Homo sapiens: one gene and its partners. Changing the gene in region 2 together with the main gene of any one other region gives a genetic interaction. Each region holds a gene or a part of one and is shown on either strand. Other genes may lie near its edges.

What was found.
Region 1: changes in GNL3L (region 2) and CSTF3 together harm fitness more than expected from each alone (negative genetic interaction), as found in Homo sapiens cells (one large-scale study listed by BioGRID).
Region 3: changes in GNL3L (region 2) and CDK12 together harm fitness more than expected from each alone (negative genetic interaction), as found in Homo sapiens cells (one large-scale study listed by BioGRID).
Region 4: changes in GNL3L (region 2) and NCAPD2 together harm fitness more than expected from each alone (negative genetic interaction), as found in Homo sapiens cells (one large-scale study listed by BioGRID).
Region 5: changes in GNL3L (region 2) and LARS1 together harm fitness more than expected from each alone (negative genetic interaction), as found in Homo sapiens cells (one large-scale study listed by BioGRID).

The regions. Positions count from the first base shown.
Region 1 is NC_000011.10:33,157,271-33,163,678, forward strand, and holds the start of CSTF3 (cleavage stimulation factor subunit 3), read right to left. Parts: upstream 4,211-6,408; 5' UTR 4,056-4,210; coding exon 4,029-4,055; intron 1-4,028. UniProt on the Homo sapiens protein: One of the multiple factors required for polyadenylation and 3'-end cleavage of mammalian pre-mRNAs.
Region 2 is NC_000023.11:54,549,771-54,555,577, forward strand, and holds part of GNL3L (guanine nucleotide-binding protein-like 3-like protein), read left to right. Parts: intron 1-1,192; coding exon 1,193-1,280; intron 1,281-1,797; coding exon 1,798-1,972; intron 1,973-2,061; coding exon 2,062-2,204; intron 2,205-2,521; coding exon 2,522-2,658; intron 2,659-4,794; coding exon 4,795-4,922; intron 4,923-5,807.
Region 3 is NC_000017.11:39,530,986-39,536,792, reverse strand, and holds the end of CDK12 (cyclin-dependent kinase 12), read right to left. Parts: coding exon 5,477-5,807; 3' UTR 2,249-5,476; downstream 1-2,248. UniProt on the Homo sapiens protein: Cyclin-dependent kinase that phosphorylates the C-terminal domain (CTD) of the large subunit of RNA polymerase II (POLR2A), thereby acting as a key regulator of transcription elongation.
Region 4 is NC_000012.12:6,517,077-6,522,883, forward strand, and holds part of NCAPD2 (condensin complex subunit 1), read left to right. Parts: intron 1-288; coding exon 289-423; intron 424-519; coding exon 520-607; intron 608-702; coding exon 703-883; intron 884-3,909; coding exon 3,910-4,034; intron 4,035-4,721; coding exon 4,722-4,961; intron 4,962-5,751; coding exon 5,752-5,807. UniProt on the Homo sapiens protein: Regulatory subunit of the condensin complex, a complex required for conversion of interphase chromatin into mitotic-like condense chromosomes.
Region 5 is NC_000005.10:146,178,683-146,185,277, forward strand, and holds the start of LARS1 (leucine--tRNA ligase, cytoplasmic), read right to left. Parts: upstream 3,969-6,595; 5' UTR 3,812-3,968; coding exon 3,806-3,811; intron 1-3,805. UniProt on the Homo sapiens protein: Aminoacyl-tRNA synthetase that catalyzes the specific attachment of leucine to its cognate tRNA (tRNA(Leu)).

The DNA of each region.
Region 1 (6,408 bases), on a different chromosome or scaffold from region 2:
CTTGAACCTGGGAGGCGGAGGTTGCAGTGAGCCGAGACCGTGCCACTGCACTCCAGCCTGGGCAACAGAGCAAGACTCCATCTCAAAAAAACAAAAAACAAACACAAAAAAACAAAACCATGAAATAAATAATACAGCCATAATTCCACACAGAAATCATATGTTTGTTAGGGGGGTAAACCTATATGCAAATAGTTTTTTCACCATTAAACTGGCAAAAACAATAAGCAAGGAGCTTCAGAAGAGATCCTTGAACACTATAAGGTAATTCCAATAGCTCTCTACATGCAAAATTGAACTTCCCTACTAGAGTTGAAAAAAAAATCACAGCAATAAACCTTTAGCAGTGATTTTGCTTGTCTGCAATAATTTCCCTCTGTTAGGGGGCACAAATCACAAATCTTAGCACCAAGAGAAAAATGACTATCCATATATTTTAGTAATAAATTTAAGATAGTATCAGGTTTATTCTACAAACTTGAACTTCAATGCTACTAAAAGGCTAAATCTACACCTGCATCTTGTAGGACTCTTTGTCCACCCCATCCCTTGGCATTTTTCCAAAGCAAATCCATGATTCAATGGTTTTAATTTTTTTCTTATTATTCTTTAGTCTCATTGAGTTTATTTTTCTCATCCATGATTTCAGGTTATTTTGGATACTCTCTTTTCCTCCAGATTTTCAATATTGTCTTAAATATCAAGCAAGGTACAGCTCATTCATATTTTCCATCCTTAAGGTGTTATTTAATGGTTATTTTAGTTGAAGCTGAATACAGTATCTAGGATTTGCTTCGAAGTAATGGGGGTGAGAGAAGCAAATGAAGTCATGGAGGAAACAAGATTAGCCATAAATTGAAGCTCTATGACAGGTACTTCATATATTATACTGTTTTTCTTACATGTTTGAAATGTATTATTAAAAAGTTAAAGAAAAGGCTATATGAAGATGACTTCCTTGTTGATAATCAGATGTCTAAATTGCCTTTCAGACTTAAGGAAAAGATATAAGAACCACCAAAAAGGTTTGGACAAGTTGAGTGTGCAAAAGAAAAATGGCTATCACTGATACTAACACACTAAGAGAAATCCATGAATCCATAGCGATACTTAATCTTTAGGAAGAAAAAAAGTCTTTTTTGCAGAAAGTATGAGCCAGTAAACAGACACAGACCAACAGAATTGTGGGTTTTAAAAACAAAACAAAACCACCATTTGCTACTTCCAATGTAAGAGCTGATTTAGTCAAGATTTATCAATTGATAACTAGGTATAAGGTGATTTTAAAGAAAACGGTTATCAACTCACAGATTATTAACTGCAAAGGGGAACATGACCCTTAACAATGAGATCACCCTAAACCAAGTGATCAAACTTAACCATCCTAACAGAACCCAGCAGAAGTACCTGCTAATGTAATGATATAATGTTAAGTATTCTATCCAAAAATACTTAACCCAAATATCAAGGCTGAGTATAGACCTAACTGTAAAGTTTTCAGGAAATACAGATGAAGGGACAAGTTAAATGACATCATCAACCCCCAAACCAAAAGCAAGCAAGCAAACAAACAACAAAAAACAAATACACCCAGAAAAGCAGTGTTAAGTGTCCTTGACACTTCGAATAGACAACAGCCCCAGGGGAGAAGAATGGTGAGACTACTTAAGAGACAGAAGTAAATGATTCAATATGTAAATCTAGATTGATTCTGGTTAAAAAAAAAATCACATTCTTGGGACAAATGGGGAAATTTAAAGAACTAGATTTTAGAAATACTATTTTCTTGGGTGGGGAAATGGTATGGTGGTTATGTAACAACATTTTGCTCTTATTTATAAGAGAATGCTGAAATACTTGGGGCTGCAATGTGTCAAAATACTTTCAAATAAACATGCGTGGACCAGGCGTGGTGGCTCGTGCCTGTCTGTAATCCCAACACTTGGGGACACTGAGGTGGGTGAATCGCTTGAGCCCAGGAGTTCCAGACCAGGCTGGGCAACATGGTGAATTCCTGTCTCTACAAAAAAAATACAAAAATTAGGCCAGGTACGGTGGCTCACGCCTGTAAATCCAGCACTTTGGAAGGCAGAGGTAGGCGGATCACTTGAGGTCAGGAGTTCGAGACCAGCCTGGGCAACGTGGCAAAATCCCCGTCTCTACTTAAAATACAAAAATTAGCGGGGCATGGTGGTGGGCGCCTGTAATCCCAGCTACTGGGGTGGCTGAGGCAGGAGAATCGCTTGAACCGGGAGGCGGAGGCTGCAGTAAGGCGAAATCGCGCCACTGCACTCCAGTCTGGGCGACAGAGCAAGGCTCCATCTCAAAAAAAAAAAAAAAAAAAAAAAAAAAATTAGCTGGGCATGGTGGCGCGCGCCTGTACTCCCAGCTACGGAGGAGGCTGAGGTGGCAGGATCACAGAGCGCAGGGAGGTCGAAGCTATGGTGAGCTGTGATGGCGTCACAGCACTCTAGTGTGAGTGACAAAGACTCTGTTCTCAATCTATCAGCATGGGGAGATAAAGCAAATATGGCAAGGCTTTCAGCTGTTGATTCCAGGCGAAGAGTTGTCCTACAGGTGTTCACTGCACTTTTCTTTCAACTTTTCTCTATGTTCTAAACTTTGCACAATAAAACCTTTGGGAGAAATTATTTTTCTATAAATTTTCACCACCATCTGTCCCACTGAAACACCACAGTTCTAAAACATTCAAGAGGTCATGGTAACATTTCCGTGTCTTTGTAATTTTAGATAAATTCTAAGAATTAACAATGAATTTCGAAAACTTTCAATGAAACCTCAGTTCATTAGTCCTTCACTTTCAGATAACAAATACTAGATCAGAAAAGGGGTAAACAGTTTTGATACAGTAATTTTAAGACTTTGCATGCTTGGGCATGCTAACACTATGTAAAATGTAAATAGTGCGAAGATTTCTGGACTGAAACCAGTCCTCGGGCAAACACAAAACAATTTAATCAAACTGCCGACATAATGAAATCTACAGTCTTACAGACTATGCAATAGAACGCTCCTATTTTGCCTCATCTCTGCCAACCTCCAATAACATCTTCCACGTTATAAGCTAGGGAACCTGAAAAACGAAAACCTAAGTGCATGTCGTTGCTATGGCAATGGGAAATTTCAGGAAATTGAGACTGCAGGCTACCTAGCCTCCATTTTAGAAACTGTATTTATCTAAACACACCAGGACTTAGATCGAAAAACACATTTAATGGCATTTTTCATAACTATTTAGCTTCCTCTTTCACACTAAAAGGTAAATACTATCCTACAAAATTCTGAATACAAAGAGCAAAAGAAACAAATCACACTGATCTAACCTAAAAGTGTGAATTTTAAAATATTTAGTTGTCACTCATATTTACTATTAAAACAGATGCTTTTATTTACAGTGGCCAAAACAGACTTCTCATTTTCAACTTATACCTGCAATGTTTATGTAGCTGGAAAAATGAAAACGAAATGTGGCTAAAAGAAAAGAAAACGAAAGAAAGCCACAAAATTCCCAAAACCTCAGCATAACTTGCTTCTTTCTTCACTCGCTCTCATTAAGTCTTAATTCTCCAGATTAGCTTTGTCTCAAATATTTCTCAAACTAGTAACCTATTTCTGGGTACAGTATATTTGGCGGGGTAAAAGAAACACTGTCAAGTTTTTCTAAAACGTCGGGTGCACGTTAAAATAATTCCTATCCACTCTAATACCAAAACGATATCAAAGGAAAGCATCCCATCTGGAGTAGTCCCATGAATCTAAATAGGACGAAGCAGCCTACCGCTATTGTCTAAATCAAGTATTTACTCGTATTCATGCCTAAGAGAGAGAAGTAAAAAAAAAAAAATTAAATCTTAGATCTTGCTCCCCATTCCCACCACTCTTCTATATACCCTGTCCCCCGGGTTCACTAGACCCAATTCCTTCCTCAGCCGAACATGTCTGGAGCAGTCGGAGGAACAGACGTGGAGAAGAGGTCGCCACGAGGCCCCACCACTCTCCTTCCTCACCTGCTCCGTGGCTCCGTCTCCTGACATGGCCTCAGCTGATTACAACGTGCGCACTGACCGTCGATGGGAAGCTAGAAAAGAAAAATTAAACTAAAAACCACCCCCAAATCAGTAAAGTTACCCCCTGCCCAGCTGAGCCAGACCGCCAACACCAATCGCCACCGCCCACTCAAATATGAATTAAAATGGCTGCGCCCCTGCCGGCCGAGGAGGAGGTGTGTGGCTTCCGCATTAACTTCCGGGGCAGTGGGCGGGGCTAATTTCGCGACTCTGGTTATTCCGAGCGTGCAGAAAGCAGCGAGATCCCGGGGCGGGCCCAATTCCTGGGCTGACGTCACTACCCTGGCTTGGAGAGGCTGTTGCTGAGCCGGCTCCAACCGGCTGGAAGGCGGGAAGCTGTTTCGCCTGGAGGCTCGCGCGCTTTTTGGAATTCAGTTATCAAGCTTTAGAGCCTGGCTACTCACAGTTGAAGCCTGATTGCAGGTCAGCAATGCTAAACGTTAAATGCCTCTTATATTTAGGGGATAAGGACTCCGTGGAGGTTTTCTCTGGTCCCAGCTCCTGCTTTTTACTTTTCTTGGGGGTGGGAGGGATAGATCAAGCCCCCATTAATTTTTACTGCCACCGTCGACTCTTGTGTAGAAAGCTTTGAAGTCTGAGACCTGGGTTTTCAGCTCAACATCTCAGCTTGGTTCCTTGACTGCAAAGTAGGTATAATTGTTTGTAGCCCAGACTGCTTGGATTTTAACGAAGATAAGTAACTCTGGTAATTAAACTTCGTACCTCAGCTTTCTGGCCTATAGATGGGAATAATAATAGTACCTGCAAGTGAAATAAATTATACATAGAAAAGTGTTAGAACAGTACCTGGCATTAAGATTAAATGAGATTGACTGGGCGCGGTGGCCCACGCCTGTAATCCCAGCAGTTTGGGAGGCCAAAACGGATGGATCATTTAAAGTCAGGAGTTCTAGGCCAGGTGCGGTGGCTCACGCCTGTAATCGCAGCACTTTGGGAGGCTGAGGCGGGCGGATCACAAGGTCAGGAGATGAGACCATCCTGGCTAATACGGTAAAACCCCGTCTCTACTAAAAATACACACACACACAAAAAAAAATTAGCCGGGCGTGGTGGCGGGCGCCTGTAGTCCCAGCTACTCCGGATGCTGAGGCAGGAGACTGGCGTGAACCTGGGAGGCGGAGCTTGCAGTGAGCCGAGATCGCGCCACTGCACTCCAGCCTGGGCGGCAGAGCGAGACTCCGTCTCAGAAAATAAATAAATAAAGTCAGGAATTCAGGACCAACCTGGCCAACTTGGTGAAATCTCGTCTCTACCAAAAATACAAAAAAAGTAGCCGGGCGTGGTGGTTTGCGCCTGTAGTCCCAGTTACTCGGGAAGCTTAAGCAGGAGAATCGCTTGAACCCGCGAGGCGGAGGTTGCAGTGAGCCGAGATTCCAGCCTGGACTACAGAGCGAGACTCCGTCTCAAAAAAAATAAAAAATAAAAAATTAAATGATACTAAATCTTCTCAAACTGCTCTTCCATTTAAGCGTCATCGTTAGATGTCTGCAAGCATTTCTCGCCTACGGGGGTCCAATGCCCTAAAATAACCTAGTGAACTGTTCCCAGACTCGCCTTATTCTTTTAGGTCTCCTTTCCTCTGCTCAAACTTACACTTACTCCCTTTCCACAGGCTGAAATCTTACCCTTAAAATAATCAGACACATGAGCAAAAGATATGTATTAACAGATGTTCATTGCACCATCCAGCAATGGAGGACTGGTTAAAAATATCACAAGATTTATCTCTGCAATGGAATATCACACAGCAAACTGATGCTAATGTACGATGACTGACAGAAAGGCAACCACCGTATTAAATGAAGAAAAGCAGAATATGAAAGTGTTTTACGTATATATACTTACCACTTTAGCATCCTAATCTGAAAATCCAAAATCTGAAATACTCCAATGAGCATTTCCTTTGAGAGTCATGTCAGTGCTTAAAAAGTTAGATTTTGGAGCGTTTTGAGTTTTGGAACATTTAGGTTTTTTTTTTTTTTTCTCTTGAGGCAGAGTCTTGCTCTGTCGCCCAGGCCGGAGTGCAGTGGTGCGATCTCGGCTCACTGCACCCTACACCTCCCAGGTTCAAGCGATTCTCCTGCCTCAGCCTCCTGAGTAGCTGGGATTACAGGCGTGCGCCACCACGCCCGGCTAATTTTTGTATTTTTTCTTTTTCTTTTTTTTTTTTTGAGACGGAGTCTCGCTCTGTCGCCCAGGCTGGAGTGCAGTGGCACAATCTCGGCTCACTGCAAGCTCCCAAGCTCCGCCTCCTGGGTTCACTCCACTCTCCTGCCTCAGCCTCCCAAGTACCTGGGAC
Region 2 (5,807 bases):
CACATACCTAGAGTTACAGAGGGACACAAATACCAGACATGTCACTATGAGGCAGGTATGTGTACCTGTACAGAGAGAAATAGAGACATACAGAGAGGAGGTTAAGGAGGCGCAGACAGGGAGAGAGTAGAAGAGACACCGTGAGACACATACAGAGAGGCATCCATGAAGTGACCAGCCCACAGAGATGAGGAGCATGGACAGAGGCTGACAGGAGTTGGCATGGAGGGAATTACAAATAGAGGCAGGATTGGTGGGGTGGAGAGAATCAGAGAGAAAAGAACAATGGCCAGAATGAGAGACAGACAAATTGGCAGAGAAAGAGGTGCTTAGATACAGAGACACAGAGAGAAACAAAGATAAGATAGAGAAAGAGACTGAGTGGGAGAGATACAAGAAAAGGAAAAAGTGGTGATACTGAGAATGGGAATGACCGAGAGAGAGAGAGAGAGAGAGAGAGAGAGATGTGTAGAGACTTCCATGCATGGTGATAATTTAGAATGAGAATGACCTAGAGAGAGGGAGGGGGGAGAGAGGTGTGCAGAGGCTTCATGCACGAGAGGTATACTTAGACATATACCTTTTTTTTCTTTAGGCAATCAGCTTTCTCGGGTTGAAACAAGCATATGCTTGAGACAATAGTACACACATGTAAATTGAGCACATACAGAAAGAGAACGGTGAGAATGAGGCCCAGTGAGGGGAAACACAAAGACATCCACAGGCTGAGAATGGCTGACAGATGCACAAACAGCAAAATACACACCTCAGGTAGACAGCTGCACAGAGAGACTGGCATCTGGAGATGACCTCCATCCCCATCCATGGAATGATACACCCAGACAGGTTGTTCTCTGTTTCTTAGACATTTCTCGATGTCCACCTTCTGTTGGATTGTGCCACTGAGGCCTTGCATTGAGGACCTCTGCCTGGCTGATTGTGAGTGGGAGGTTGGTGTCACGTCTAGAAAGAGGGACATACCTATCTAGCATGCTCACAAATGGAGGGGAGAGGTAGAAAGGCCCTGTAGGGGCTTTGTCAGGGCCTGGGGTGGGAAGGGAGGAGGTCAGGCTCAATTTTTTGGCTTCCCCATGGCCTGGTTACTACCCCTGGCTAGGCCTCCCTCACACAGGCTGGCCTGAGTGTTCCTGAGGGCCTCTTCTGCCCTGAGCCATCTGCTGCTATTTTGTAGGTCTTCCCAATGTTGGGAAGAGCAGCCTGATCAATAGCCTGAAGCGCAGCCGCGCATGCAGCGTGGGAGCTGTTCCTGGAATTACCAAGTAAGCACCTGCCTGCTCCTCCACTCCACAATTCCTTGACCCTACCATTTCCCCCCAACTCCCATGCCTTCAGCCCCTGTCCCTTTCCTTATCATGGACCATCCCCTGATGCTTTCCCCAGGCATGGGAGTCTCATAGCCCTCATTTTCCTGATACACCCTAGGTGTGGGCCAGGTCCCCACATGGGTGGTTCCCATTAGCGCCTTGAAGCTTCTGAATAACGATGCAAGATTGGGCTACAAATGGGAGCTCTGTTGACTGGATGAAGCAGCTGAGGCTTGGAGAGTCAAGCTTGCCCAAGATCCTGCAGCTCAGTCCCCAGTGGCAGAGGATAGATTAGAATCAGCCTCAAGTCTGTAGAGCCCCAGTCACCCCTCCTCCAACTCTACATCTCTCCACCTTCGTCTCTAATGCACCCTCCCCTCACTCCTTTACACTCCCACATCCCAGGCCCACCTTCGTGATTGGGGCCTCTACGATGCCAGGTACATCTGGGCTTTCTTCTTCCCCGCCCCAGATTCATGCAGGAGGTCTACCTGGACAAGTTCATCCGGCTCTTGGATGCTCCAGGCATTGTCCCAGGGCCCAACTCAGAGGTGGGCACCATCCTGCGTAACTGCGTCCACGTGCAGAAGCTGGCAGACCCTGTGACCCCAGTGGAGACCATCCTGCAGCGCTGCAACCTGGAGGAGGTCCGCAGCAGAGCCCTGGCTGATGCCCTGCCCTACTCTAAGGGCCCTTCATTCCTCCTCATGACTTCTCTCCTTCCTCCCTTCACCAGATTTCCAACTATTATGGCGTCTCTGGGTTCCAGACCACTGAGCACTTTCTGACGGCAGTGGCCCACCGTTTGGGGAAGAAGAAGAAGGGAGGCTTATATAGTCAGGAACAGGCGGCCAAAGCTGTCCTAGCTGACTGGGTGAGGTGAGGAGGGGGTTAGGGGTAAGGGTGAGGCCCGCTGGCAGCCTGGCTCCCCAAAGGGGCTCATCTGTGCTCATTGCCGCTGGGGCAGCTTGACTTCCTGGGTCTTGGGGCAGAGGATGGCCAAGGTGCCAGGTCATGTCCTGCTCGAGACTTTATGCCCAGTGATTATCCAGCAACTCAACTCCTTCTTGTTCAGAAGCCACTGTCTGGGTTTTCTTGTTCCGTTGCTGTTTCTGGCCTGCAAACTCATCGTCTCTTGGATTGTCATTGGTTCTCTCAGTGACAGCACCACTCATCTCCCCTATCTCCCAATGCAGCGGGAAGATCAGCTTCTATATACCACCACCAGCCACTCACACTCTGCCCACCCATCTCAGTGCTGAGATCGTTAAGGAAATGACCGAGGTCTTTGACATCGAGGATACTGAGCAGGCCAATGAAGACACCATGGAATGTAAGTGTGGGCAGGGTGGGTGCACTTGGTCTTGCACTAGTGGGGCCACACAGACCTGACAGCAAATCCCACTTTTGACCTCCCGCTTCCTTGGCCCTACTTGGGCTTTGGGCAAGTTGCTTAAGCAGCTTCAGGCCTAATTTCTTTTCTTGCAAGGTGGGGAATTCTAATCTGGCCCTGGCAGGGCGGGTTGGGGGAGGGTGGTTGTGAGCTTTTGGTAAATAACGAAAGAAAAAGTGCCTGGTACCCATTGAGGTGCTCTGGAAATGTGAAGCTCCATTCCTGTCTCTTGGGACCTGGAATGGACTGAGACATTCTCTCAAAAACTCTCTAATGTTGCCTTAGGCTTTTTCACAACCACTTCAGGTCCACTTCTCGATTTTCCTTCTTACCCCTATCGGTGAGTAAGGTACCCAAGTCACAGAAAGCTGATATTTGCCAAAAGGATGTCAGCAGAGGTGGCCTTTGACCCAGTTCTCCTGCCCTGTTGAAGACTCTTCCAGCTCACAGGAGCTGGGTGTCCAAAAGTATAGACTGCCTGGATTCAAATCCGAGCTTTGTTTCCTTTTTACTGTGTGATGCTAAACAAATTACTTCACTTCTTTGTCTCAATGATGTCATCTGTAAAATGGGGACAGTAAGTCCACCCGATAAGGTAGTTATGAGGATTTTTTTAATAATGTAAAAGACATTTAGAACAACAGTGCCTGGCATATAGTAAATAGATGCTCAGTAAATGTTAGTTTTTATTAAGATGATTATTTGCTGGGGAACAGAGATGTGACTCTCAGAAACTCCTGAGAATGTTTGCCCTCCTCAGATATTACTCTCTGCAGCCCTGGCTTGTGGCTCCCTGCTTCATTCTCTACACTGCCTAAGGAAGGTATCCAGTGCCTTCTGGGCTTGTCTGTAGACATTATGGGGTAGTTGAGGAAGCGTTGGCTAGCCTGGCTTCTAGATTCTCTGTTTTTTCTCTTGAGGTCCAGTAGTTTTCCTTCTCTGGGTCTTTTAGTGTCCTTGTGTTACACACGAGGTTAAGAGGACTTGCCTGCTTTCTAGTTTGTATTTCATGTGGCTTTGAGCAAGTCAGCCCCCTTTCTGAATTTGTTTCCTCTTTTTGTTTTTTTTTGAGGCAGAATCTTGCTTTGTTGCCCAGGCTGGAGTACAGTGGTATGATCTGGGCTTACTGCAATCTCTGCCTCCTGGGGTCGAGTGATTCTTGTGCCTCAGCTGCCTGAGTAGCTGGGACTATAGGTGTGCACCACCACGCCTGGCTAATTTTTTTTATTTTTAGTAGAGATGGGGTTTTGCCATGTTGGCCAGGCTGGTCTTGAACTCCTGGCTTCAAGCAATCTGCCTGCCTTGGCCTCCCAAAGTGCTGGGATTACAGACATGAGCCACTGTATCTGGCCTTAGTTTCCTCTTCTGTTAAATAGGGCAGTTGAGAGGGGTTTGAGTTTATGTTCTTATGATGATGCTTGACCCTGGCTGGATGTGAGGGCAAGAGGTGCTCCATCACTGAGAATACATTTTGGCCAAAGACTGAGGTCTGAGAAATTGAGAAGACAGTGAGGAACAGGTTTAGTGGTGAAGGTTTCCTGGAGGACTTGGCCCTAGTGCTGGATCTTGAAGGGTGAGTAGGGATTAGAAGGCCGAGGGTAGGGAATAGGGGCAAAATTATAGAAGCAGGCATGAGGGTAGTGGGGCACAGGGCAGTGGGCACATCTGAGGGTTGCAGTAGAGGCCAGCTCCAGGCAAGGGGCCAGAGAGAGGAGGAGAAAGTCTGGTCCTGGGGAGGGAATCCCAGTGCCTGCCATTTACAGAGCAGCATCTTGGGCCAGAGCATTACAGACATCTGCCATGTCTCACAGCAGCCCAGTGTGAAGAGGGCTTGTGGAATTCCCATTTTCCACATGAGGAAGCTGAAGCTCTGAGTCCAGCTCCCAGCAAGTGAATGTCCTACTGCAAAACCCATGCTTTTAATTCTTGGTGATGTGGCCTCTCAGCAGGAGTGAAAAAGTTCCTGCACCTGACTCCCCTGGGAAGCATCCATGTATCCTTTTCACTGAGGCCTGACCAGGGGGCTGGCAACAGAGGGGAGCCAGGGCCCTGACAGTGGTGTTGGTTGTGTTAAAGGCTTGGCCACCGGAGAATCTGATGAGCTGTTGGGTGACACGGACCCACTTGAAATGGAGATCAAGTTGCTCCATTCTCCGATGACGAAAATAGCAGATGCCATTGAAAATAAAACCACCGTGTATAAGGTACCTGTCATCTTTGTTCATGGCAACCCTCTTCTCTCCCCAGGGCTCTGGGAAGTGGTCAATCCCTTTTACCTGCCTTTCATGTGGTGAGATGTGGGTAGTTCACTCGCTCCCTATGGGCTTCTGGATGCCTGGCCTAGTATATCCTTTACCAAGCAATGACAGGTCCAGGAAACAGGCATGCTCTCTAAGGCAGCTTTCCCAGCTCTGGTTCTAGCCCATAGAACAGGTATCACTATCTAGCCACCCAGTTGTCCAACTTGCAAACGACTCTTTCTTCTCCCTAACTAGTACCAGGATTTTATTTTATTTTATTTTTTATTTTTTTATTTTTTTTTGAGATAGAGTCTCACTCTGTCACCCAGGCTGCAGTGCAGTGGCGTGATCTTGGCTCACTGCAGCCTTTGCCTCCCAGGTTCACATGATTCTCCTGCCTCAGCCTCCCAGTTAGCTGGAATTACAGGCATGCGCCACGACACCCGGCTTAATTTTTGTGTTTTTAGTAGAGACAGGGTTTTGCTATGTTGGCCAGGCTGGTCTCGAACCCCTGACCTCGGGTGATCTGCCTGCCTCGGCCTTCCAAAGTGCTAGGATTACAGGCATGAGCCACCATGCCTGGCCTGGGATCTTATACTCTGTCAGTCAGCAAGACCTATGTCTTCTCCCTCCTAAATCTTTTGACAAGCTTTTCATCCTTTTCATCCCTACCATTCCTGTTACCCTAAACTAAGCTTCCAGCCCTCACTTACTTGGACATATGTCCCAAGGTTTCTTTCTTTCTTTTTCTTTCTTTTTTGAGATGGAAACTCGCTCTGCCACCCAGGCTGGAGTGCAGTGGTGTGATCTCAGCTCACTGCAACCTCCGCCTCCTGGGTTCAAGCAATT
Region 3 (5,807 bases), on a different chromosome or scaffold from region 2:
CAGTCTCTTTCTCTCAGCCTTGGAGTACTAATTTTTTGAGATAAGAGATATGAGAGAAATCCAGTGGTCAAAGTGTTTTGGCACCCCAGTGATTAATCACCAGGACATTAAAGCAACTCTTATCTGCTTTCTCTTAGATACCAGAGAGCCCTCTTCTCACCAAGCTTTACTTCCCACAGACACCATCTGCAACTGAGCTTAGAAATGTCATCAGCAAAAGCAACAATCTCAGGATATGGAAGAAGAGGATAAAAAGGTGAAGGTTGAAAGAGGGGAAGCAGGAAGACAGAAAGATGACTCCCTGCCTTTCCTGGCCAGGGTACAAAATAATCTTTTGTACCCTACATAACACAAATGAAAAGCTCCTTTCATAGCTCCTAGCAATAAGAAAGTATGGTTAGTTTACTTTCTCCTTCACTTTCCACTACAGTAGGTTGAGGATCCAGATAGACATTTGTCTTCTGAATTGACTCTCATTACCTTTCAAAACAATGAAATAGCAGTAACTCTAAATACCTGGTAGGGTTAAGCAATCAATACCGATGGTAGGCCTAAATTATTCCAGTTGAATGGTGAGTGGGGAGAAAGAGAAATAGGGAAAAGAAGTGGGTGGATAGGAGATGGAGAGACAGTTGCGTACAGTAAGGAGTACCACCAGTAATTCCTTCAGGTGTCGTACTCCCCCAGTCTTTCAACTCTGGCTTGGAGTAATCTCCTACTTGAGAGAATTCCTAATTAGGAACACTGGAGGTGTTCCTACAGATAAGAACTGTCACACCTGGACAGTAAAATTAACCAAAGTGTCCAGGAATGCTCACCTTGCCTCTCAGGACAACCAGAAGACTCAGCAGTTCCACCTCTCCCTTGGAATGGTTGAGTGCTTCCTCCCTTGAGGAATTCCCCATTCCCATTCCACTTAGCCCTTATGGATGATTAGGATATGAAAAGTCACTCCATAGTTAAAAAACAGTCAAGCTATGAGGCAATCTTTAATAACAATGGAAATCCCAAGATCAGCACCAAGAGCATTAACTGTTTACTTCTTTGAGGCATTAACCATACAGTTAAGGATGCCTATCTAGGAAAGAACAGTGCCTAAGAAATTGAGGTACTGAACAGCATGGTTTCTGGTTAGAAATGGCCTTGGGTATGACAGAAAAATCTAGGTTAGTAAGGTCCTCAGCCTTTAGGCCCAGAATTGAAAAGACACTGCTTCAATTTTCACTGCTATGAAGTGAAAACAGTATTTTCTAGTAGGTTGAAGTTTATACCCCAATCATGAACTTGCAACCAGGAACACATAATTCCAGAAATTGGAACAATCTTGAGCTCTCCATTCTCCTTATAAGATGTGACTTAGCCCACAGGAAAGGGAACACCACTTAAACTTTTGAGGATTCAAAAACAGGTTAGCAACTCTCATCATCACCAGTTTTTGAACTCAACTTCCTTCTAATTTCCCTTGCTCTGGTGTATCCCTTAACCTTCCTGTATGACTTGCTCACCCCATTTACAACTTCAGATACCTATCGCCCTTCTTTCTTTCTCCTAGTGGACTTTATCTGCCCTCTGCCCATTTGTCATAACTAGCAGGATTGCAGCACATACCACAGGGGCAAATTTATCCTGTGTTCTAAGCCATGAAAGAGAAGGGGAAGCAATTCTGTCTTCAGGTGGAGATGGGAAAGATTTTGGAAACAATAGAGATTTTAACTTTTAAACAACTTTTTGATTCACTTTCTGGATTGGCAACGCATCGGGAAATCTCAGCAAAGGTAGGTACACTAATCCCCATGCTGACTCTGCATGTAATAACATGGGAACTGAGGTAGGGTGGGTGGTGAAGTCTGGTTTAAGACTATCCTTTGGGTCTAAACAGCCTCTTACCAACTTCCCTTGATGACAGTTGAGCTCAAACCCACTTACCTCTCCTGTCAGGAGGAGTCAGGGTACATGAAGCTCAACTCTTTTGATGGTTTGGTACCATTATTTGTATAACTTTTCTACTTTAAAAAAATCACATTTCATGGTTTTTCCCAACTCATTTATTCTCTAGTTCCTAGTCTAGCGTTTTCAAGCACCTCTTCAAATCCTGATAACCTTTTGCTGGGAGGGGGAGTTAATGAGTCTATAATGATTCTGAGACAGAGAACCCCTAAGATAAAGTGGAGGAAAAACGTCCTTTATACATGATTAGATATGCTCAGGGGGTACAGATTAAGAAGTAAATGCAATGGAGCAAAAGTGGTATAGTAACAGGAAATATTTAATTTTCCAATCTCCACTTTCCATTTTTATAAACTGAAAGAAAAAAATTTAATATATTACAAAATATCTGTACATAGACAAGATACACCCAATGGGGGTCAAAAACGAGAGAGAAAGGAATCAGTGTCAGGAACCTAAATCAGGGAGAATGAGGTGGCAACTGACACTTTTCTGATGCAGCATTCTCTCTCAAAACCTGCTGGTAACCATTTTAGCACGGTAACTATATATGCATATTATATATACACACACACATACAAGTGGTTGGGTGATGTCTATGGCATAAGCTAATAGAAGTTCTACTTGCAAATTTGTGCTAACTGCCCTGCTTTAAACGTATAGATTTGATGTTGCTTTCAAATACTTATCGTTCCTATGGACAGTTGAAGAAAAAACTAAGGAAACTGGGTCAAGTATATTTGTTTTCAAAACCACAAAAATGATCACGGTCAAACCAGTTTTGCCTCCCACTCATGAACAGAATCAGATTTCTCATCTGTTCAAAATAATGTATTTAATAGACAATATCTCTCATTGTACAATAATTAAAACAAAACGAAAACCACTTTTGAATGGAATTAATTGGGTCTGTAATTTTCAAATAGTCAAGGTGAAATTCTGCCAAACCTTTACTTCCATCATGTTTATAGATAACGTAACTGAAAAATTAACAAATACCTTTTCTTCCTCCATACAGATTCCAGGATATTTAAATAAGTTTTTTTTTCTCCTCTGCTTTTAGAAATAGTCAAAACTACCAAACTTTGTTTTCATTTTAAAAGACTCCCAAAATGGGGGTGGGGGTGAGATGGGATCATACATACACATACACTCACACATACACTCACCCCCTTCCCTAGTAGGGATGAGGGAATGGAGGCTTAAGTATATTATTTAGGATATTTGGCATAATTAAAAATAAGAGGTGGGAGAGGGGAGGGAAAAACATTATTGATGACTGCTGATAACCAAAATACAATGAAATATATAGAGAATTTTATTCATATTTGATGGGAAACCAACTTTTTTTCATTGAACAGATACTTCTGAAAGTATCCCAGGCTCACGTTCTTTAATAAAAAACAGGGAGTGGGGCCCAATAACTCAAATTCAAATATTCTAAAACACAAAGGCCCATGTCTGAGGACTAAGAAGTCAACAGACAGAAGGTTCAGATGAACTTTAATGCGATTTACCAATAGCATGTCAGTAAGCCTAGTAAATCTAACTGGACACACTGGTATAAAAAGCCATCAATGCCAAAATAGCTAGAAGGCTCTCTTTCTAAATCAGTGTTTGGCCCTGGAGGCAAGGCCAGATCAAAAACCAGAGAATAATAAAGAAATACACACACCGATATCTAGCTATATCTCATTAACAGGGGAAAACAGTCTTCAAGTAAGTATCTGAAGAGGGTTCTTCTTTCATTTCTTTAAAGTTTTTTTTTTTTAAGTAATGCACCTTTCTCTTATAAGTAGATTTTATTTTTTAAAATAAGAACTTGGCATTGAAACATGAAACTTGAGTTTTGAAAACTACCCTCCAAGATGCTGAAGTATGTTTACTTTTTCTTTGTAAAAGGGGGCTTAACCTATGTTTCCTGAAGGTCTAAGTCTGTGCAGATAAATTATATGACATGTATCTGTTTTTAAAACACTCTATATGCTGGTACTCACATAGAAATAGAAGCCAGAATGAGAAGCCTCCCAAATTATCCCATCCTGACAGCCCTTCCCTTTTTCATTTCCTGTTTATGATAAGGCAAAGTTCTTGCCTGGAAGCACAATTTAACCCCTTTTACCAAAACCAAATCCAAATCTCTTTGGAGGAAAAATCCCTAAAAGAACTGGCAGGGTACACATGCTGGGATGTGGGTATGTCAATACTGTTCTTCCTCACAGTATGCTGTTTTAAAATTATTTTTTTAAAAAAGGTCAGGTATTGATGTATCTTCAGAAAAATACCCACCCTAAACTAGGTTACATTTCCATGTATCTTCAGGATTTGTTTTTCTCTTTGACAATATCACAATGCTCTGTTTGAAAGGTTTTTGTTTTTTTTTTGACATAAAAATATATGTGTAAACAATATGCTAAATGCTGTTATTAGCCCTCTAGGAATGGAGGCATCATCTCTAACCACAGCTCAGCAGCAATGTCCAAGCTGTCCACACTTACAAATCAACTTCCCCATCAGAACATGGTTTAAAAAACAAAACATTTTAGAATTGAAGAGTTACAGAGAACAATGTAAGAGTCTGAATTTCCTTTCCTTTATTTCAAAAAAAGTAAAGAATTATCCCAGGTTCTTGGGCATCTCAACGATTTTTTCCAAACAAATGCCTCAAAGAGAGAGAAACAGCGAGAGCGAGCAAGCGAGACAGAGAGAGAGAGAGAGAGAGAGAGAGAGAGAGAGAGAGAGAAAGAGAGAGAGAGAGCACACATCAGCAAAAAAGGAAAGAGACTGGGTAAAGTCTACCTACTTGCCCAAGAATGCCACGTTCTACAACCTGCTTTATGTGCAGGGAGAAGGGCGTATCTTTTGTCAAAGTGGAGTAAACTTTAAGGATGAGTAATTTATTTGGAAAAAAAGTATGTTCAAGATGCTCAATGGGGAAAAAGTGTTCACTTAAAAGCAAAATGTGAGATGGTGGAGAGGAAAGAAACATTTATTCAAATCAGCCAGGCCACTCTGTTTCCCTTATAGCAAAAGCCAAAGAGCAGCTCAAATTTTGTGAACACTATTCTCTTTAAAGGAAAAAAACCCAAAACACCTAAATTAAAATTCAAAAGAAAGAAACCACACACAATCCCCCACCCCAAAACTTTAAAAATCAAAGAGCCTCTCCTGAGCCATCTCAATACTGAAACTGTTCTTTCTCTCTTCCGATCAGTAAGTGCAGGCAATGAACTAATAAAACATTTACTTTTCAATGTAATGATCCTCTCCATATTCTCTACTTGTATCTACTAAGGTAGAGTTGAAGTAAATGTTCTGGCTATAGCCCATCCAGGGGGAACTGGTGCCAACATCATTATTTCGTAAGTCGCCTGCTAGTAGCAAGTGAGCAAGGAATACAACGGACAGCTTTGCAGTAGCCAAATGCAGATGATTACCTCGCTCTGGCAAATGATTTCATTAAAGATTCAGAGAACTGGATGGAAGGATGGATAGGAAAGGAATCTTTCAGGACACTGAAGTCTCTGGGTTAGTAAGGAACTCCTCTCCCTCTTCCCCCTCTTGGTGGGACTCTTGTAGGCCCCCGATAGAGTTTTCCATAAGCAGAAGACTGAGTTGGGCCCCCCCAGTGAAGGCCTGCTCCTGAGCTGCTGGCCCCAGTGGTTCCTGGCCCCAGCTCCCCATAGTTTTGCAATTTGGTCTCTGCATGTACCACAGAATTGCTGCTTCCCTCAGCCTTCAGGAATGGTTGCCCGACCACCGGGTGTAACGCTAAGGGGACCCTGGCAAAACGGAGGTCCTGGTCCCCTGGAAACTGCACTGACCCTGTGCCCTGGTAACTGCTGGACTCCCCAAGGTGG
Region 4 (5,807 bases), on a different chromosome or scaffold from region 2:
GTAAAGAGGAATCCAGTGTTGAAGATAAATATCTGCCCCAAAGAGGTCTAGAATTCACATTTTTATTATCAGTAGTAAAAGTCTTCCTCTACCAAGGACGAGGATATCTGGCTCCCTTTAAGGACTGTAATGTGTCTTACCACTACAAGGAGTACTCCTAATCTATATTCTGTAGAAAGGGTTTTTAGAGTGAGTGGGTAGCTCAGTTTAGAGTATACTTAAAGATCATCTTGAACAAAATGGATGATGTGGGACTTGAGCAGATTCTTCTCTTCCTACCCTACACAGGCTCTCCCCCTGACACGTTTCCAGGCAGTGGTGGCTTTAGCTGTGGGACGTCTGGCAGACAAGTCAGTGCTAGTATGTAAAAATGCCATCCAGCTGCTGGCCAGTTTTCTAGCCAATAATCCTTTCTCCTGCAAGGTAAGTAGACTTGGTCCACCAAAAGAGAAGGAATTAAATGGAAACAGGGATGAAATTATGTCATTTACTGACCCTGCTATTCATTTTACCTGATAGCTTAGTGATGCTGACCTTGCCGGACCACTGCAGAAGGAGACCCAGAAATTACAAGAGATGAGGGCCCAGAGGCGAACTGCAGCAGCTTGTAAGTAGTTACTGCCTTGGAGTCCTAATGCCAGACAGGCTTCTCCTTGCAGTCAGAAACTCTAGTGAAAGAGACTAAGTGACACTCTCATTTAGCTGCAGTGCTGGACCCAGAGGAGGAGTGGGAAGCCATGCTGCCAGAGTTGAAGTCTACCCTGCAGCAGCTTCTACAGCTTCCCCAGGGAGAGGAGGAGATTCCTGAGCAAATTGCCAATACAGAGACAACTGAAGATGTGAAAGGACGCATCTATCAACTGCTTGCCAAAGCTAGTTACAAGTAGGCAAAAGAATGGGATATTCTTCGTGATCTGTTTATGTTTAGAGTTAACCTTTGAGAAACTTACATAATGTGTCTTTTAAATTAACTGCACACAGATATGCTGCCACCAGGTGATGGTAGATGTTTTCATGTAGTAATGGTCTGACCATAGGCCTAGTCCACAATTAAGCATGTGTTTCTACTTTATAAATGTTTAAAAAAACTACTGAAACAATTAAATGTTAACAGTATTATAATCAAACATGAGTCCTCCTTCAATTGAAGAAGAGCACCTATAAATAAGTTCTAGTTGTATGATCTTGAATAAGTTGCTTAACTTTCTGTGCCTCGGTTTCATTATCTATAAAATAAGAAATTGATTAGATCTTATGATCTCTAAGGACTTTCTAATTCTAAATTTCATGAACTAATAATATCAAACATGCTTAATACTACCTTAATCTTCAAACCTAGTATGAATCCTGATCTTAGAGAAAAGATTTCTCCTAGTGTTTTTGTGACTCTAGAACTTAACAACAAAAGCCCTTACAGCCGTCAACAAGTTTTTTTTTTTTTTTTTTTTTTTTTTTTTTGAGATGGAGTCTCACTCACTCTGTTGCCCAGGCTGCAGTACAGTGACACGATCTTGGCTCACTGCAACCTCTGCCTCCCAGGTTCAAGCAATTCTCGTGCCTCAGCCTCCCAAGTAGCTGGGACCACAGGCGCGCACCACCACACCGCACTAATTTTTTTATTTTTAGTAGAGACAGGGTTTCACCATATTGGCCAGGCTGGTCTTGAACTCCTGACCTCAGGTGATCCACCCATCTCAGCCTCCCAAAGTGCCATGATTACAGGCGTGAGCCACCGCACTCGGCTGCCAACAAGTATTCTTAAACCTCAGCCACAAGTTATTTGTTATTTATTTACTTCTTACCTAATTGGGCTGAATTTTTTTTTTGGAGACGGAGTCTTGCTCTGTTGCCCAGGCTGGAGTGCAGTGGTGCGATCTTGGCTCACTGCAACCTCCACCTCCTGGGTTCACGCCATTCTCCTGCCTCAGCCTCCCGAGTAGCTGGGACTACAGGCGCCCGCCACCACGCCCGGCTAATTTTTTTTTTTATATTTTTAGTAGAGACGGGGTTTCACCGTGTTAGCCAGGATGGTCTCAATCTCCTGACCTCGTGATCCGCCTGCCTCGGCCTCCCAAAGTGCTGGGATTACAGGCTTGAGCCACCGTGCCCGGCTTGGGCTGTTTTTAGAAGGCTAGAGAGTGGCTTGTTTGCCCTATGACTCCCTTATGTTACTTTAGTGTCTCTCTTTTTATTTTGCTAAAGCAAAAATAGAGACTATAGTTTTATAAGTGCATGTTCCACCAAGCATTCTAGTATTTTCTCCTGTCAATTAGAAAAGGATTGTTTGTTTTTGAGACAGAATCTCACTGTTGCCCAGGCTGGAGTACAGTAGCGCAATCACAGCTCACTGCAGCCTCTCACTGTAGCCTCAACCCTGCTGGGCTCAAGCGATCTCCCACATTAGCCTCCTGAGTAGCCTGGTTAATTTATTTATAATTTGTAGCTGGGATTACAGGTACACACCACCAGGCCTGGCCTTTGCCAGCCTGGGCAACGTGGCAAGAAGATAACATGTAGACAAGCAGTCAAACATGTATTCTTTTTTTCCCCCTTTTATATGACTGATAGAATTCTCTGCCCACTGATCTACCATCTTGTTTTTTTCACTTAACTATGTGTCTCAGTGGTTTTTAAAAATATTTATGGCTGGGTGCAATGGCTCATGCCTGTAATCCCAGCTACTTGGGAGGCTGAGGCAGGAGAATTGCTTGAACCCAGGAAGCAGAGGTTGCAGTGAGCTGAGATTGCTCCGCTACACTCTACCCTGGGTGACAGAGGAAGAGTCCATCTCAAAAAAAAAAAAAAATTTATAGATGGCCAGGTGCAGTGGCTCACACCTGTAATCCCAGCACCTTGGGAGCCCAAAGCTGGTGGATCTCTTGAGGCCAGGAGTTTGAGGCCAGCCTGGCCAACGTGGCGAAATGGCGAAACCCATCTCTGCTAAAATTACAAAAATTGGCCAGGTATGGTGGCACGTACCTGTAATCCTAGCTATTTGGGGAGCTGAGGCATGAGAATCACTCAAACCTAGGAAGCAGAGGTTATAGTGAGCCAAGATCATGCCACTACACTTCAGCCTGGGTGACAGAACAAGACTCTGTCTCTAAAAAAAAAAATATATATATATATATACACATATATATTTATACATAAATAGTTTCCCACTCTCCTCTTTTTTTGAGAGAGAGAGTGTCTCACTCTTTTGCCCATGCTGGAGTACAGTGGTATGATCACAACTCACTGCAGCTTTGATCTCCCAGGCTCAAGTGATCCTCCCACCTCAGCTCCCTCGAGTAGCTGAGACCACAGGCACACACCATTACACCCACAGGCACACACCATCACACCCACAGGCACACACCATCACACCCACAGGCATACACCATCACACCCACAGGCACACACCATCACACCCGGCTAACTTTTTTTACTTTTTGTATAGTTGGGTCTCCCTGTGTTGCCCAGACTGATCTCAAATTCCTGGGCTCACGTGTCCCCATTATTTTTTATGACTACATAGAATCTTATTGTCTGGATGTGCCTGAATTAACTAATTATTGAAAGTTTATTGTTTCTAAACTTAGGAAAGTTTTTAAACAGGTGTTTGGAGTAGGTTTATGATTTTAAAACTTTAAAAAGCCTTATTGGAGTTTTTTTGAAGACTGTAGTAATGCCTTGTAGGTTCAGAAATAGGAAAAGTGTTTGCAGATGAGCAGTCAGGGGAAAAAAATAGGCAAAGTGTTTTGAGCCCTACCCCTTAGTAGGTGCTGTAACAACTTTTTAAGCATGTTAAGTGCTCCTTTTCTCTGGGCAGTAGGTCCAGGGACTTGATAGAATCATGAGGTAAGCTCCCTTACAAACGGCTGCAGTGACATTCTTCTGGGTACTGACAGGCTGGTGTTCTTTCAGAAAGGCCATCATTCTCACTCGAGAAGCCACAGGCCACTTCCAGGAGTCCGAACCCTTCAGTCATATAGACCCAGAGGAGTCAGAGGAGACCAGGCTCTTGAATATCTTAGGACTTATCTTCAAAGGTAATCATTTTCCTTCTTCAGTCAATAAATAACACATGTCAACTGGTATTTACTGAGCATTAACTTTATGCCATCATTGGCCTGGTTAACAGAACCTGGTGCTGAAGAGCCCAGAGATGAATTGGCATTACTTTTGCTCTGGAATGGAAGCAGCCCACGGGCCTAAGATTGATAGTCACAGGGTGACTGTCCAGACCATAGCGGTCTTTAGGTATGGTTTTTGAGAAATTTAGATATTTTAGAGTAAGTTTTAATTTCATATCTTCACATTGTGAAAAGAGATATCCAGGGCCAGATGTCGTGGCTTATGCCTGTAATCCTAACACTTTGGGAGGCCAAGGCAGGAGGATTGCTTGAGCCCAGGAGTTGAAAATCAGCCTGAGCAACATGACGAAACCCCCATCTCTACAAGGGATACCAAAAAAAAATTAGCCAGGTGCGGTGGCACGCACCTGTAGTCCCAACTGCTCAGGAGCTGAAGTGAGAGAATCACCTTAGCCCGGGGAAGTTGAGGCTGCAGTGAGCGGTGATCATTGCCACTGCACAGCCTAGGCAACAGAGTGAGACCCCATCTCAAAAGAAAAGAAGAAGGAAAATAAATAAGTAAATATCCAGGAATGTTGACAGCTGTTGGATTCCCCTGTATCCCCTTGAACGAAACCATCCTGTACTTCTCTAACTCCTTAGGCCCAGCAGCTTCCACACAAGAAAAGAATCCCCGGGAGTCTACAGGAAACATGGTCACAGGACAGACTGTCTGTAAAAATAAACCCAATATGTCGGATCCTGAGGAATCCAGGGGAAATGATGAACTAGTGAAGCAGGAGATGCTGGTACAGTATCTGCAGGATGCCTACAGCTTCTCCCGGAAGATTACAGAGGCCATTGGCATCATCAGCAAGATGATGTATGAAAACACAACTACAGGTATGCCAGAGTCCCTTTCTATAAGGACAGCCTTGGGGTTCTTTTGGATTTTTTAATTTTTTAAATTTTTATTAACAATAGAGATGGGGCCTTCCTTTGTTGCTCAGGCTGGTCTCCAACTCCTGGGCTCAGGCAATTCTTCTGCGTCAGCCTCCCAAAGTGCTGGTATTACAGGTGTGAGCCACTGCACCCGGCCATGGATCTTGGAGTTCTTTTCCATATTTTATTGATATATCTATCTGCTCCTTTAAAAGGCAGGGGTTCTCGGCTGGGCGCGATGGCTCATGCCTGTAATCCCTACAAAACTGGGAGGCCAAAGCAGGAAGACAGGTTGAGGCCAGGAGTTCGAGAGCAGCCTGGGCAACATAGCAAGACCCCATCTCTACAAAGAAACAAAAACTAACTGGGCGTGATGGCACGCACCTGTAGTTCCAGCTACTCGGAAGGCTGGGCAGGAGGATTGCTTGAGCCCGGGAGTTTGAGGCTACAGTGAGCTGTGGTCATGCCACTGCACTCTAGCCGGAGCAACAGAATAAGAACCTGTGTCTTAAGAAAAGAAAAAAAAAAGGCAGGGGTTCTTTTTTTCTGTTTGCTTCCTCTAGCCACTTACAGCTTATACATTTTAATGCATATAGTATTTCATGATAAGGCATCATAGGAGGAGTCGACATTCTCAGGGAAAATGCGGAAGGCCTCCATTTGCATCTTGCTACATTCAGAAAGGTTCTGTCGTTAGGTATTGGGGGAGTTTTGTGAAGTAGATAGGTGACATTTGTACATGTTCTCTCAGTGGTGCAGGAGGTGATTGAATTCTTTGTGATGGTCTTCCAATTTGGGGTACCCCAG
Region 5 (6,595 bases), on a different chromosome or scaffold from region 2:
TTCTTTTCTAAGAAATAATAAGCCTGCACAACTGTTCATCCCTTTCCATTCCTGCTACTAACCACCTTCATTTAGACTATCAACGCCACTGCCCCCTCTCACTTCAAAACCTCTTCTTAATAAGTAACTTGGCTGGATGTAGTGCCTCATGTCTACAATCCCAACACTTTGGGAGGCTGAGGAGGGAGGATTATTTGAGGCCAGGAGTTTGAGACCAGCCTAGGCAACATAGAAAGACCTCCTCTTTAAAAGAAAAACAATTTTTTTGGCCAGGTTTGGTGGCTCATGCCTGTAATCCCAGCACTTTGAGAGGCCGAGGCAGGTGGATCACCTGAGGCTACGAGTTCAAGACCAGCCTGGCCAATATGGCGAAACCCCATTTCTACTAAAAATACAAAAATTAGCCGGATGCGTTGGCATGCGCCTATAATCTCAGCTACTCGGGAGGCAAAGACAGGAGAATTACCTGAACCCAAGAGGCGGTGGTTGCAGTGAGCCAAGATGGAGCCACTGCACTCCAGCCTAGGCAACACAGCAAGACCAATCTCAGCTCACTGAAACCTCCATCTCTGGGGTTCAAGCAATTCTCCTGCCTCAGCCTCCCGAGCAGCTGGGATTACAGGTGCGTGCCACCATACCTGGCTAATTTTTGTATTTTTAGTAGAGACGAGGTTTCACCATGTTGGCCAGGCTGGCCTCAAACTCCTGACCTCAGGTGGTCCACCCGTCTCAGCCTCCCAAAGTGCTGTGATTACAGGCATGAGCCACCCAGCCCGGTCTGTAAAATATAATTTCTAATATTTTTACAGAGGAAAGGACCCACCCACAAAGGCAAAAGTATGTAGGGCCTCATGAAGCCTAGTCATATCTCCTACCCTACGGTCATGGGTAATATGAAATTTCACTGTATTTATGTGTGTGTGTCTGTGTGAGAGAGAGAGGGTCTCCCTCTGCCACCCAGGCTGGAGCATAATGGTGCAAGCACCAGCTCACCGCAGCCTTGACCTACTGGGCTCAATCAATCTTCCCATCTCAGCCTCCTGAATAGCTGGGACTACAGGCATATGCACCACCATACCCAGATAGTTTTTGTATTTTTTTGTAGAGACAGGGTTTCACCATGTTGCCTAGGCTGGTCTTGAACTCCTAGGCTCAAGCAATCCACCAGCCTTGGCTTTCCAAAGTGCTGACATTACAGGCTTGAGCCATCGCCTTTGGCCAACTTCCACTTTATTACTAAATTCCTCCTTAACCAACTTGAGTTGACTTCTGTTAAATGCAACCAATGATCTTAAGACATTTATGCAGTTGGGCTGTAAATTCTCAACAGGCAGGAACTTTTAAATTGTTTATAGTCACCTTAGCACAAAGTACAATGCCACAGACACAGAAGTTATGTAACAAATATCTTTTACCTAAAAATTACCATGAGCAGGACATGGGAACACTGAGGCCAGAGGATCACTTGAACCCAGGAGATCAAGGCTGGCTGCAGTGAGCTATGATTGCACTACTGCACTGCAGCCTGGTTGATAGAGTGAGTCCCTGTCTCAAAAAATAAAAAATATGGCCAGGTGCATTGGCTCACACCTGTAATCCCAGCACTCTGGGAGGCCAAGGTGGGCGGATCACTTGAGGTCAGGCGTTCAAGACCAGTCTGGCCAACATGGTGAAACCACAACTATACCAAAAAATACAAAAATTAGCAGCGCATGGTGGCGCACACCTGTAGTCCCAGCTACACAGGAAGCTGAAGTGGGAGAATCACTTGAACTTGGGAGGCACCACTGCACTCCAGCCTGGGAAAGAATGAGACTCCATTTCAAAAAAAAAATAAAAATAAAAATAAAAAATATGATCATGTCACCCATTGTAAAGAAGACTATGAAAGCAAGTCTTTTACAAATTACTTAGAACTATGTGTTTCTTTTCATTGTACTGAGTATGCCAAATGCAAGAAAGCTTTTATTTGAGTTTTCTGTTTCTCAGAAAAACTTGTTTCTCAAAACCTCAAAGATCAAGTATAATAAAATCTGATATTGGCCCAAACACCAACTTGTTGTATAACCTTGAGCAAGTCATTTGATCAATCTGAGACTCAACCTCCTCACTGGTAACAAAAGGCTATATAACTAAATCAGAGTTCCTAAACTTTGGCACTACTTACACTTTGGGCCAAATAATTCTTTGTTTTCAGGGGTTGTCCTGTGCACTGCAGGATGTTTAGAAGCATCCCTGGCTTCTACCCGGGATCCCTGCTTTTCACTTACACTGTTGCCCCTGCCTGGAAATCTCTTTCTTCCTATAGTTGCATAGGTTGCTCTCTTACCTCGTTTTTGCCACCTTTTTGGCAAAGCCTTGCTTGATCATCCTTTTAAAAATTGCAACAGGCCAGGCGCCATGGCTCACGCCTGTAATCCCAGCACTTTGGGAGGCCGAGGCGGGCAGATCACGAGGTCAGGAAATTGAGTCCATCCTGGCCAATGTGGTGAAACCCTGTCTCTACTAAAATACAAAAAATTTAACTGGGCATGGTGGCGCGCGCCTGTAGTCCCAGCTACTCGGGAAGTTGAGGCAGGGGAACCGCTTGAACCTGGGAGGAGGAGGTTGCAGTGAGCCGAGATCGCGCCGCTGCACTCCAGCCTGGCGACAGGGCAAGGCTCCGTCTCAAGAAAAAAACAAACAAACAAACAAAAAACAAAAAAAAATAAAACCAGGCGGGATGGCTCATGCCTGTAGTCCCAGCACTTTCGGAGGCTGAGACAGAAGGATCGCTTGACCCCAGGAGTTCGAAACCCTGTCTCTACTAAAAATACAAAAAATTAGCAGGGTGTAATGGAGCACGCTTGCAGTACCAGCTGTGGGGAGGCTGAGGTGTGAGGATCGCTTGAGCCCTAAGGTCCAGGCTGCAGTGAGCCATGATCACGCCACTGCATTCCAGTCTGGGTCACAGAGTGAGAACATCTCCCAAATTTAAAAAAATTTTTAAAAATTGCAACTGTACTACCCCACCGTACACTCCCTAGCACCCCTTCCTGCTCTATTTTTTCCCCACAGCATTTATCAGCACCTGACACAATATTTTACAATGTATTTTACCCACACACATAAACACTATGAAAAGAGAGATTTTTGTCTGTTTTACGGAGAGGCGCTCAATTTTTTCTTTTTTTTTTTTTTTTTTTTTTTTTTTTTTTGCTGTAAGTAGGAATCAACTTACATACTCCTCTCTCCACCTCGGCTTTATTTGTTTGTTTATTTATTTATTTTATTTTTAAGACGGAGTCTCACTCTGTCGCCCAGGCTGGAGTGCAGTGGCGCGATCCTGGCTCACAGCAGCCTCCCTCTCCCGGGTTCAAGCAATTCTCCTGCCTCAGCCTCCCGAGTAGCTGGGTTAACAGGCGCGCACCACTACGCCCGGCTAATTTATGTATTTTTGGTAGAAACGGGGTCTCACCATGTTGGCCAGGGTGGTCTCGAACTCCTGACCTCAAATGATCCACCCGCCTCGGCCTCCCAAAGTGCTGGGATTACAGCCGTGGGCCACCGTGCCCGGCTCTCCACCTCGATTTTAGAAACTCCAGAGAAATAACAAATATGATATCCAAGTACTCCGTAAAGTTAACAGACATCAGTTCGTGGTTCATAAACTAGCAAGAAAAAGCAAAGTCTCTACGAAAGGCACGCCTTAAGCGTGGCTCTCTTTTAGAAAAGGACTTTCCCTTCAGGACAGCACATGGAGAGCCCCTAGAGACTGGCCAGTCCGGCTCCAGGGCCCCTGCGGATTCTTCTCGCTCAAACTCACCGCCATTGCACCGCCCAGCCGACTGTGCAAATCCACGACAATGACCCTGGCGACCTCCACAAAGGAGTGGTTACCTTTCCCCTCCCTCTCGGGGATGCCAGGCCTCCCACGAAACTAAAGCACACGCTTCACACCTGCTGAGGCAATCATCCGGCTCCTTACTAACTACAGCCAAGGCATCTCACAGCCCGCCGGGAATTGTAGTTCCCAGACCACCCGAGCAGACACCCAGCAGGCGCTAACTGACTACAATTCCCAGAGAAAAACGGGTTATCGGAAGTCTACCCGATAGGCCCACTCAGAGGGGAACCGGCAGTGACGTCACTGGCATGTTGAACTACAAAGTCCATGATGCAGTGCGGGATCGCAGAATGCCGCGAGTGCGCCCTGGTTAGGTTGGAGTCCCTTGGCCATCAACCTTTTCACCCGGTAGAGCTGGTTGCCTGTCGGGATGCCAGGATACGCAGTTAATTACTATACGGTGACTGAGGTGCTACTTATGGCTTGCCACTATGCACAGATATTTTTTACTGTCAGTGGCATTCAACAGCCCAGCATTTAGACATTGTATAACCGCGTATTGACAATCTCCTTTTTTTTTTTTGAGACGCAGTATCGCTCTGTCGCCCAGGCTGGAGTGCAGTGGCGCGATCTTGGCTCAGTGCAACCTCGGCCTGCCGGATTCAAGCAATTCTCCTGCCTCAGGCTCCCGAGGAGCTGGGACTATGGGCGCGCGCCACCACACCGACTAATTTTTTGTATTTTTGGTAGAGACTGGGTTTCACCTTGTTAGCCAGGATGATCCCGATTTCCTGACCTCGTGATCTGCCTCCCTCGGCCTCCCAAAGTGCTAGGATTACAGGCGTGAGCTACCGTACCTAGCCAACAATCTCCTTTTTTTTTTTTTTTTTTTTTTTTTTTTTTGAGAGGGAGTTTCGTTCTGTCTCCAGGCTGGAGTGCAGTGGCGCGGTTTCGGCTCACTGCAACCTCCGCCTCCCGGGTTCAAGCGATTCTTCTGCCCCAGCCTCCTTAGTAGCTGGGACTACAGGCGCGCGCCACCGCGCCCAGCTAATTTTTGTATTTTCAGTAGAAACGGGGTTTCACCATATTGGCCAGGATGGTCTCGATCTCCTGAACTCGTGATCCGCCCGCCCCAGCCTCCCAAAGTGATGGGATTACAGGCGTGAGCCACCGTGCCCGGCCAACAATCTCCATTTTTAAGCAAGAGACTGAAAGCCTACCTGGTCCCATTGCCTGACTCAGACTATTTAGACCACTACCAAACAGGGCCAGGGGCGGTGGCCATAATCCCATTATTTTGGGATGCCGAGGTGGGCGGATGACCTGAGGTCAGGAGTTTGAGACCAGCCTGGCCAACATGGTGAAACCCCGTCTCTACTAAAAATACGAAAATTAGCTGGGTATGGTGGCGTGCACCTGTAGTCCCGGCTACTCGGGAGGCTGAGGCAGGAAAATTGCTTGAACCCAGGAGGCAGAGGGTGCACTGAGTCGAGATCGCACCACTGCACTCTATCTTGGGCGGCAGAGCGAGACTTCATCTCAAGGGAAAAAAAAAGACTGGTCGGGTACGGTGTCTCACACCTGTAATCCCAGCACTTTGGGAGGCCGAGGCAGGTGGATCACGAGGTCAGAGGTTCGAGACCAGGCTGGCCAAGATGGTGAAACCCCGTCTCTACTAAAAATACAAAAATTAGCCAGGCGTGGTGTCACGCGCCTGTAATACCAGCTGCTGGGAAGCTGAGACAGGAGAATCACTTGAACCCGGGAGGTGGAAATTGCAGTAAGCCAAGATGGCAGCACTGCACTCCAGCCTGGGCGACAGAGCAAGACTCCGTCTCAAAAACAAAACAAAAAAAAGACTATGCTACCATACAGAGATATATGGTGTCTGATACAGTAGCCACTAGCCACATGTGGCAATTTAAATTCAAATTAATTAAAAATAAATAAAATTTAAAATTCATTTCTTGCCGGGCACAGTGGCTCATTCCTGTAATCCCAGAATTTTGGGAGGCTGAGGCAGGAGAATCACTCGAACCCAGGAGGCAGAGGTCGCAGTGAGCTGAGATCATGCCATTACACTCCAGCCTGGGAGACAGAGTGAGACTCCATCTCAAAAAACAACAACAACAACAACAACAAACACAAATGGCCGGGCGCCGTGGCTCACGCCTGTAATCCTAGCACTTTGGGAGGCCTAAGTGGGCGGATTGCCTGAGCTCAGGAGTTCGACACCAGCCTGGGCAACACGGTGAAATCCTACCTCTACTGGAAATACAAAAAAAAAAAAAAAAATTAGCGGGGCTTAGCAGCATGTGCCTGTAGTCTCAGCTACTCAGGAGGCTGAGGCAGGAGAATTGCTTGAACCCGGAAGGCAGAGGTTTCAGTGAGCCGAGATCACACCACTGTACTCCAGCCTGGGTGACAGAGTGAGACTCCAGCTCCAAAAAAAAAAAAAAAAAAACCACAGATTAGTTACTCACGTGATAATTTATTAACCCAGTAAACATTAAGCATCTACAATGCACTTTAAGGGATTGGGGACCCTTTAAGGGGATGGGGAACGCAGCCCAGATGTGTGTCTACCTAAGGGTTTAAGGGAAGGGAATACACACACACACAAACACATACACACAGAACTTTTTTTTTTTTTTTACATTTTTCAACAACTAGTTTTGAAATACAAATTCAACGATGTCCTAAAACAATACTTGGCATATGATATGGGGTCAATACAAATTTGTTGGATGAAAGGAAAAAGTTAAGAAG